Regions from separate parts of the Homo sapiens genome. Here region 1 is linked to region 2. Evidence: fine-mapped expression QTL. A gene starts in region 2. The other region holds a variant in brackets. All regions are shown on one strand. Distances are from middle to middle. Region 1 overlaps ACSBG1 (acyl-CoA synthetase bubblegum family member 1). Region 2 holds the start of CIB2 (calcium and integrin binding family member 2).

Evidence for each region. PIP is the estimated chance that this variant, and not a neighbour inherited with it, causes the effect. A credible set is the group of variants that fine-mapping cannot tell apart.
Region 1: its variant is the best candidate, but not a certain one, in a credible set for the expression of CIB2 in esophagus mucosa (GTEx, PIP 0.66).

Annotation. Positions count from the first base shown.
Region 1 is chr15:78,207,607-78,211,985 of GRCh38, forward strand. ACSBG1 (acyl-CoA synthetase bubblegum family member 1) reads right to left here. Exons shown (of 14, transcript NM_015162.5): 2 at 396-496. Among named protein-coding and RNA genes, the nearest start is that of ACSBG1, 25 kb to the right of the region's middle. RefSeq lists an enhancer at 335-846. The variant G/A (reference allele first, on the strand shown) is at 2,496.
Region 2 is chr15:78,129,004-78,133,382 of GRCh38, forward strand. CIB2 (calcium and integrin binding family member 2) reads right to left here and starts at 2,442. Exons shown (of 6, transcript NM_006383.4): 1 at 2,162-2,442. The coding sequence starts at 2,212. RefSeq lists a silencer at 2,147-2,666.

The DNA of each region.
Region 1 (4,379 bases), 79 kb after region 2:
CCCCTTGCCCCAGTTAACCAGGCCAAAAATCCCAAGGCATTGCTTATCTGGGCTTTCTCCTGTCCCTCAGCAACCCTTTGCTGGAGCCCCAAGTTCCCAAGGCCTGGGCCCAGATGATGTCCTACCTGTCTCTCTATCTCTGGCCTCTCTTCTTCCCAGCTTTCTTGAAGAAGAAATCTCCCCATCCCTCATTCCTTTCCATCACGCCTGGCCCTGATGGCAGCCATGAAGGAAGGGGCTTGGTGGGGTCCCTGGGAGCGTGGAACCAGCAAGATCCCCAGCTGCTCCTTCCCGCAGTTCTGTGTGGTGGTCCCCCACACCACCCACCCCTCCAGCACACCCAGCACAGCACAGTTTCCCGCCCTGCCCCACCCTACCACCCCCAGCTGGCTTACCTGGAGCATCCCACTGGGCATTATTCACCTTCTCTGGCACTGAGAGCTCGAGAGCATGGTTCAGGGACTCTTTGGAGAGTGGCTGCCTGTCAGTCAGTGAGCTGGGGTGGTGAGGGGACCAGGAAAAACATTCATTAGAACGTGGGGGACCGGCCTGGGCTTAGGGACTCCGGCCTGGCACACATCTCAGCACCCCCAGGGGGACACTGGCACCTCTGTCTCCTGCAAATGCTGGGGCCATCCACAGAGGAGAACCCAGTGGGAGTCAGGGGACAAGACCTCAGTGGTTGTAGGGGCTGACCCTGCCCCCACCCAGCCTCCCTCCAGGCTCTAAGGGCTCAGGAGAAAGGGAATTCAAGGCCTTCTGTGCTCTACTTTGTGGTGTGACCCTGGGCAAGTTCATGCCTCTCTCGGGGTCTCAGCACCCCACCTGGATGAGGACGGGGCTAAGGTCCGCACTGGAGGATTCTGAATGCCACTCCTGGAGAGGGCAGACTTTTGGGGCGGGGGTTCCCCCATCTGTCACTCCCTGTACCCACCAGTCCCCAGCCATGCCCAGAAACTGAGTGGAGCTGCAGGTACTCATAGGGCTCTCAGGGGTCCTATTCCGGCCCCCCAGTGAGGGCCTCCCCTCTTCCATGTGCTTGTGGGTGCACCATGCACCCCATGTCTGTTCACTCCATGGAGAAGACAGACATAGACGGGTCCAGGGAGACCTGAGGCCCAGGGCCTGACCCAGATCCCCCTCGCCTCCCAGGCTCGGTGACCCTGGCTAAAGGGTCTCCCCTTCTGGCCAACCCAAGTTTCATGGGTTTCTGGGCTTTCATTATCCTTTCAGCCTGACTGCCCTTCAGCACCATTTTTCCTCAGAGTTCACCTGGCCAGACCTCAACCTCCTAGATGGCTGAGCAGCTGGATTTCAGTACACACTTTAGGACTGCAACAGGATTATAGAACTCCAGAGACACATTTCACAGTCAACAACTACGTAAACAGAATCCACTGGAGTTGTGCAGCATGCAACCTGTGCAGCTGGTCATGGTGTCCCTGAGGGTAGGACCCTGGCTCCAGGGAGCCCTGTCTGTCAGTTAGGGTGGGGCTAGCCCCATCCCTGCCCAGTTCCCAGGAAGCCGGGCCAATTACCTGCTTCTCACATTCAGCCTCACTCCTTGTCGGCACTGCAGGTTCCGAACAAAACTAAGTTTGTGAACACACCTAGGCCCACCTGGCAGCCATCTGCTTAAGAACCTGAGATAGGTTTTAAAGCGAAAGATATCAGAAGGTTATGAAGGGAGGGGGACGGGGAGAAGGGGGATGACTGGGGAACCAAGGTGGCGCCGTTCTTGCGAAATTTGTGAGCAAGGCCTGGGCCACAGGCCTGGAGCAGCCCTTCCATTGCTATGGCGACCCACTCCAGGGAGGTTGTGGAAAAACTGAAGAGATGGCAACGTGTGCTTCCGGGGCGAGGCCTCCTGTGCCGGGCAGACAGAGGCGTGTGAATGCTGCAGAACTCGTCCTACTGACTTTGGATCCTTGGTTACAGCTCTCTGGGATAGCCAGGTAGAAGCTGCCTCCACTTTGGGCCGCAATGTTACCAAATGGCCCCTGAGCTCTGGGTTCAGGCAGCGACGGCAAACGAGGGACACGTACACTGCTAGGCTCAGAGGCCTGCACTGTGATCATCTGGGGAAGACTGTGAACTTGGTTGATGTCCCTGCCCCATCTCAGCCTGTGTTCTCAGAGGACGGTGGACAGCACCCCAGGTTAGAGTTAGCAGCTCTAATCAGCCTCTGAGATCACCAGCTGGGCGGCCACCTCCACATTAGCCAGGCAGGAGGCTGTCCTTGGCTGTAATGTCCCACCATCTGAACTGCTTCCTCACAAACAAACCTGTTTTTAAATCCTCCTAATCAAAAGGTATGGGCAGCACTTCTCTCCCCACAGAAAATTAGTGTAAACTGGTTCTGGTTTTAAAATAGCTACACAAAGACTAAATGAAAAGACAGCCACCAAAGGAAGCCAAGGGTCAAGCGTACTTATCGTGATTAGAACCTTCTGTTTATAGGGACGATGAGGCTGTTGGCAGCACCTTCTTGCTGC[G/A]GGTGGGTGCCTTTTCCTGGAGGGGCAGCACCCAGTGCAGTGTCAAATTTCTTGTTGCTCAGACACTGATCTTGTCCAGCAACCATGGTCAATGAGAGGGTGGACCGTGGCCCTCTGCCAGCATCAGTTTAACAAGAACACCTTCCTTATCCCTGTGGCTGGCTCAAGGCACTGATTCAACTCTCTATGCCCTATGCTTACAGAATTTGGGGCGCATGATTAAAAGAATGTCAAAACCTAATTCTCCAAATGAATTAAGCCTGATCTTTTCCTCACTAGGGGCTTTGAGAGGTGGTCCCTTTGAAGAGATGTCATCCGAAATAGAATGTGCTAAACCTCCAGTAACTTCCTGCTCACACAGAGTTATAACCAGTAACAGGCTTTCCTGACCTGACTTGTCACACAGAAACAAGTGAAACTGCTCGGGCCATCTGCCTCTCCTCATTGTGAGTGCTGTCTCACACTCGTTGTTGTTCGTAATGGTCGTCTTTCAGTTTTTATTTTGTATGTATGTATTTATTTATATTTTGCAGACAGGGCCTTGCTCTGTTACCCAGGCTGGAGTGCAGGGGCACAATCACCACTCACTGCAACCTCAAACTCCTAGGCTCAAGCAATCCTCTCATCTCAGCTTCCTGAGTAGCTGGGACTACAGGACAGCACCACAAAACCTGGCTAATTTTTGTATTTTTTGTAGAGACAGGGTCTTGCTATGTTGCCAGGCCTGGTCTCCAACTCCTGGGCTCAAGCGATCCTCTAGCCTTGGCCTCCTAAAGTACTGGGATTATAGGCGCAAGTCACCATGCTCGGCCATTTTTTAGTTTTTAATCCTCTCCTCTGTGACTAGCAGTCACTTCTTGCTACTTTCAGTGTGCTGGCTTCTAGCAATTCATCTCACTCCTACATTGCCATTTCTTTTTGTAGCAGAATAGAAAACAAAACAGCCAAGCTCGTTAGAACTTAGGTTACATTGGGGGACAAGTTCCACAATGGAACCTATCATGTTTTCTTTGAAGAAAAGAAGCTAAGGTTTGGGAAGCTGCCCCTACTCTGTCTTAACTCCTCAAAAGCATTTTGGGCCCTTCTCCTGATTCTTGCTGCTATTCCAGGAAGGACAGGTGGCTGTAAATGATCCTACAGGTGAGTTGATATTACTGTCATTGTGATCATCATGAGCACGCCGAAGGCGATTAACATATTATTCCTGTCATTCTGGAAAATTATGCTCCTTCTGGAAGGCAATACTCCAGAGGTTGGCGGAAGTCACCTAACATGATTAATGACAATAATGGTGGAAGAACGGCCTGAGGAGGCTGACTGGCTTCTGTCTGCATTTTGAATTCCCAGGAGGAAGAAGAGCTTACAAGGTTGGCCCTTTTCACTCGTCTTTGAGGACGAGAACAAGGATTCATTCTCTGACCTCAGCTCACATAAGCACACTTTAAGCTCATCGCCTTGCTCTCCTTTCACAGAAAACAAAAACACTTTATCAGCAGCTACCCAGCAGCATGGGAACAAGAAAACAAAGGGCGTGTTTGAGCAAATATGATGTAAGATGTGTGGGGGGCAGAGGAGCCTGGGAGCGTCTGCACTGCGCCTTTCTCTTAACCATCTCTTGGTGGATTGGTGTCTCCTTACTCCTTCTACCTTGCCAGAGGAGCTGATGGGAACCATTTGCACACAGAGCCTCCCAAGCCTCCTTCAACTCCTCCTGCAGGAAGCCCTCCTAGATTTCCCCAACACCCTCTCACCCCTGTGGCCCTTGGATACTCAGGTTTGGGCTTTGATGGTCACACATGGCTTGACAGCTGGGGCCGCTTCTGATTCAGCTCTGTCCTCTGGCCATGAGTACTTACTGTTGGAGCTCAGTACATGTTGGTTGGA
Region 2 (4,379 bases):
TTGGAGTTTGAGGGGTCTGGGGGATGGCCGTACAATGCAGAGGAGTGTTCTGGACAGAAGCTTAAATGTTGGGAATCACCGGCACCGGGAACCAAGAGGGTGCACCCTGCCCAGGAAAGGTTAGACTACCAGGCTGGGAGGTCCCAAGAAACCCTAGGTGTCACTTAGGGGAGAGGGTGCTGTAACTCAGGCTCACCCCCACTCAGCCCGGGCTGGCAATGGCTGGCTGGAGAGCCAGAGGGTAGGAGATGTGGGGCTCTCAGGTTTCACAGCTCTCATTTCTCCCACCCCGCCTGGCAGGGTCTAGCTAGGCTCTGGCAAAGAATCAGAACATAACACTGGGACTGGCTCCGATGAGTAACCCAATGCCAGGCTGGTTGGAGTGGGAACCTGGGCTCCCCACCCCCATGAAGCTACTCCTCACTTCTGAGCATGGCTTGCCTGCTTGCCCCTGCCCACTCCCAAGCCTTTATCCACGCTGTCCCCTCCACCTGGAATGCCTCCTCTGGGCCCCACTGGGCAAAACCCGACCTATCTTCCCAAGGCCTGCTCAAGTGCTGTATCGTTTCTGGACTTTGTCCCCCTTCCCTGCTGGCCTCCCACTGCCCACTAGTGCCCTTCCCTAGAACACACTCCACCACCTGCCTCTATCACAAGGGCCACACACTGGAGGTGAGAGTCTGTCTCTGAGTGTCTGAGACTGAGTGCCTTGGGAACAAAAAGCACACATGGCCCAGCCCAGCCCACTCCCAACTAAAGAAGTGAGCCTAGGAGTCAAGATTCGAAATCCTGTGTGAGCCCTGAATGGCTCCTCAGCCTCTGTTTACACGTCTGTAAAATGGGCTAATAATCCACCTCACTGTGATGATCAAGTGAGTTGATGCGTAGAGGGCATCAATTACTGTGCCTGGTACACAGCAGGTGCTCCATAAATGCGTCTCCCCTCTTCCTTCCCAGGGCCTCACCTGGGGAGCTGAGAAATCCATTACTGACAACTAGGGCTTCTAGGAGGAGAAGGGGCCTTTGTTTTACCTTCACCCACATCAGAGGACCCACACTTCACACCTGCTTTCCTTCACAGCCAAAGTAAGCACTGATGAAGGCAACAAGTGCCTATGGAGACCCTGTTGGTGTTCCTCCTGCCCAGTTACACAGGCCACAACACAATCCTGCCCCCTCCGCCTGGGGAGTCAGGGGAGAGGCATCAGATGTGGGACTTGAAGGGTGAAAGAGATCCTCTGGAGGGGGGAAAGGCATCCAGGCCCAGGAAATGGCATGGGCAGAGGGAGAGAGGGAGGGAGGAATGAGCCTGGTGAGCTGGAGCAACTGCAAATGGTTTTAAGGCGGCTGCCATGCAGAGGGCAGGGAAGGGACCTGGGGAGACTGAGGCTGCAGAGATAAGCTGAGCAATTGGCCAGGGCTCCGGGTAAGCCAAGGGGTTGGGCTTCATCCTGCAACCACAGCGAAGTTTTTACCTGGGTGGGACGGTATTGGGATTCCAGATCTGGAAAGCTGGCTCTGGAGGCAGGAAAACCTAGAAAGGTCTAAGGAGGTGGCTACTGAGGGCCTAAGGGAGCTGGGAGAGGTGGCCCTGGAAGGCTGCTACCGGGCTTGCGTTCTTGCTCCAGTTATCTCCATGCTGGGGTCAGAAGGAGCGAACCCCAGCCGATAAACAAGACAGTCCCAAGGGAAGACTGCATGTGGGGACTGATGCACCCCACTCCTAGACCAGACAGGACGCCAGCTCTCATTTCTGCTTTACAGAGACTCGCTCTCCTGGGCTCCTTCCTGGGGCTGGGGGGCAGGGAGCGGGGAGGGCGGTCCTCCGTCCAGCCTAGTTTACTGACTCCCTCTCCGGGCCAGATGGGCGCTGGAATGGGTGGCTGGAGAGGGGTTCGGGTCCTGCCTAGGGCGAGAGTAGCTGGAGAGAGGCGCGCCTGAGAGGTTCTTCCAACTGGAAAGAGCTCTTATTCCACCGGTGGGGAAACTGAGGCACGGCGAGGGGAAGTCACCGGCCCAAGGTCACGCGTCGAGCTGAAGGCAGAGGCAGGGTTTGAACCTGGGAGAGCTGGCTCTCGGGAGGCCTCGGCCAGCGACCGAGAAAAGGGAGGGGCGGCGGGGCGGCGGGGCCTGTGTTGGGGGCCGGGCGCGCCGAGCTCACCTGGTAGTTGTCTAGCTGCTCTTCGGTGAAGATGGTCTGCTTGTTCCCCATGGTGGCCGCCGCGCCGCCGCTCGCCCGCCCGGGCTCCGACTCCCATCAGCGGCCGCCAGACCCGGAGCCAGCGCCCCGTGCCCGCGGCCCTCGGCAGCCCCGCGGCTGGCAGCGGCCCACGGTGGCCGGACCCTTCCCGCCCCGCAGCTCGCCTGGAGGAGGCGCGCGGGGGTCTCGGAGGCGGGGACGGGAACCCGGAGCGGCAGCGACTCCGCCGCCGGCGGGAAGAGGGCGGGGCACCCGGCTCCGCGGCTGCAGCGCGCCCGGGTCCCGGCAGGAGGCGACCTGGCCCCGGGAGACGCTGCCCGGCACGAACCCTTGGCTCCCGCGGCCGGAAGTGCTGGGGGCGCGCGGGGGTCTCGGAGGCGGGGACAAAGACCCGGAGCGGCGGCGACTCCGCCCCGCAGCAGGAAGAGGTGTGAGCCCGGGTCCCGCCGTGGGAGTCCAGGTCGCACGGCGTGAGGGTGCGGGGCCTGGGAAAAAACCCTCTCGAGGCGGGCAGTGGGGCGAGTGGCGCCCCTTGACCTGGGGCGGGGGCGGCAGCGAGGACTGTGAGTGCGTGGATCTAGCTGGGGCCGGGCTCCGCCACCGTCTCGCGTCGCGACCTTGGTCAAGCCCTTACCCGGGCCCTGTCCCTCTGGGGAGAAGGAGGGGGTCAGTCAAGCTGACATCTGAGGCCCTCCCGGCCAGGCCTCGGGAAGCCCATCTGGCCTTTGGGCGCGGCCTAGGCAGGGCATCTCAGACCTTCTGTGTTCCTTAGGGAGCAGGACAGGATTTACTTGGCTTGGTTACAAACGTGAGACTTGAGAGGATTTAAAGGACTTGACTGTGTCCACAGAAGTGTGACAAAGGCCAAGACATTTTTTGGAGCTTTTAAGCAGATGCCATTGTAAGGGAAGCAGGACTTTACCTCTGCCCTCCTAGGGTCTTTGGCTGGGCTTGAGAATTAATTTGGCATAAGACAGATTAAGGGGAGAAAAACAGATTTAATACAAGTTTTACATGACGTGGAAGCCCTCATAAGGAAATGAAGACCCTGAGAACTGGCAAAATCTAAATACTTTTTTTTTTTTTTGAGATGGAGTCTCCCTCTGTCGCCCAGGCTGGAGTGCAGTAGCGCGATCTTGGCTCGCTACAACCTCCGCCTCCTGGGTTCAAGCGATTCTTCTGCCTCAGCCTCCCCTAGTAGGTGGGACTACAGGGGCATGCCACCACACCCAGCTAATTTTTTTTTGTATTTTTAGTAGAGAGAGGTTTCACCATGTTGGCTGGGCTGGTCTCGAAATCTTGACCTCAGGTGATCCACCTGCCTCAGCCTCCCGAAGTGCTAGGATTAGAGGCCTGAGTCACCACGCCCGGCCAATTATTGTATTTTTTTTGTAGAGATGGGGTTTTGCCGTGTTGCCCAGGCTGGTTTTGAATTCCCAGGCTCGAGCAATCCACCCACTTTGGCTTCTCACCCAAAGTGCTGGGATTATAGGATGTGAGCCATCATGCCCGGCCTCATCTCCTGTTTTTTAGAAAAAGAAGGATGATCAAGAGTGCCCTTCTTGCATCTGCTATTTTTCAAGTGCCTTTAACTCAAATACTCAATATGCCAGAGCAGCATATGTTGTGGTGGCATGTTCTGAACTCCTTCCCCATCCACCAAATGGAGTCACCGCTATCTTTTTGGGGTCCAGCCCATACAACTGTTATTTCTAAACTCAGGACAACTGAATCAGTAGGTATTATCTCCATATTATAGGCAAAGAGTTGGGCTGAGAGAGGTTCAGTAACTTGCCCAGGGTCCCACAGCTGGGAATTAGTAGAACCTGGACTGGACCCAGGCACTGGCTCAACATACCATTCCACAACTGCCAGTGGACTTTGAAGAGATCAGGATTTTTTTTTATTTATATATATAAAAAAAAATAGAGATGGAGTCTCACTATGTTGTCCAGGCTGGTCTCCAACTCCCAGGTTCAAGTGATCCTTCTGCCTTGGCCTCCCAAAGTACTAGGATTACAGGCGTGAGCCACCATGCCTGGGCGAGATCAAGACTTTATGCTTTAAAATGCGTGGTTTGTTACTTTAGGATAGTGGTTCTGAAACCACCTGGGAGCATGTATCAAAATTACTTGGGAGGCTGCACCCCTAGATTTTCTGATTTAGAAGGTCTGGGGTG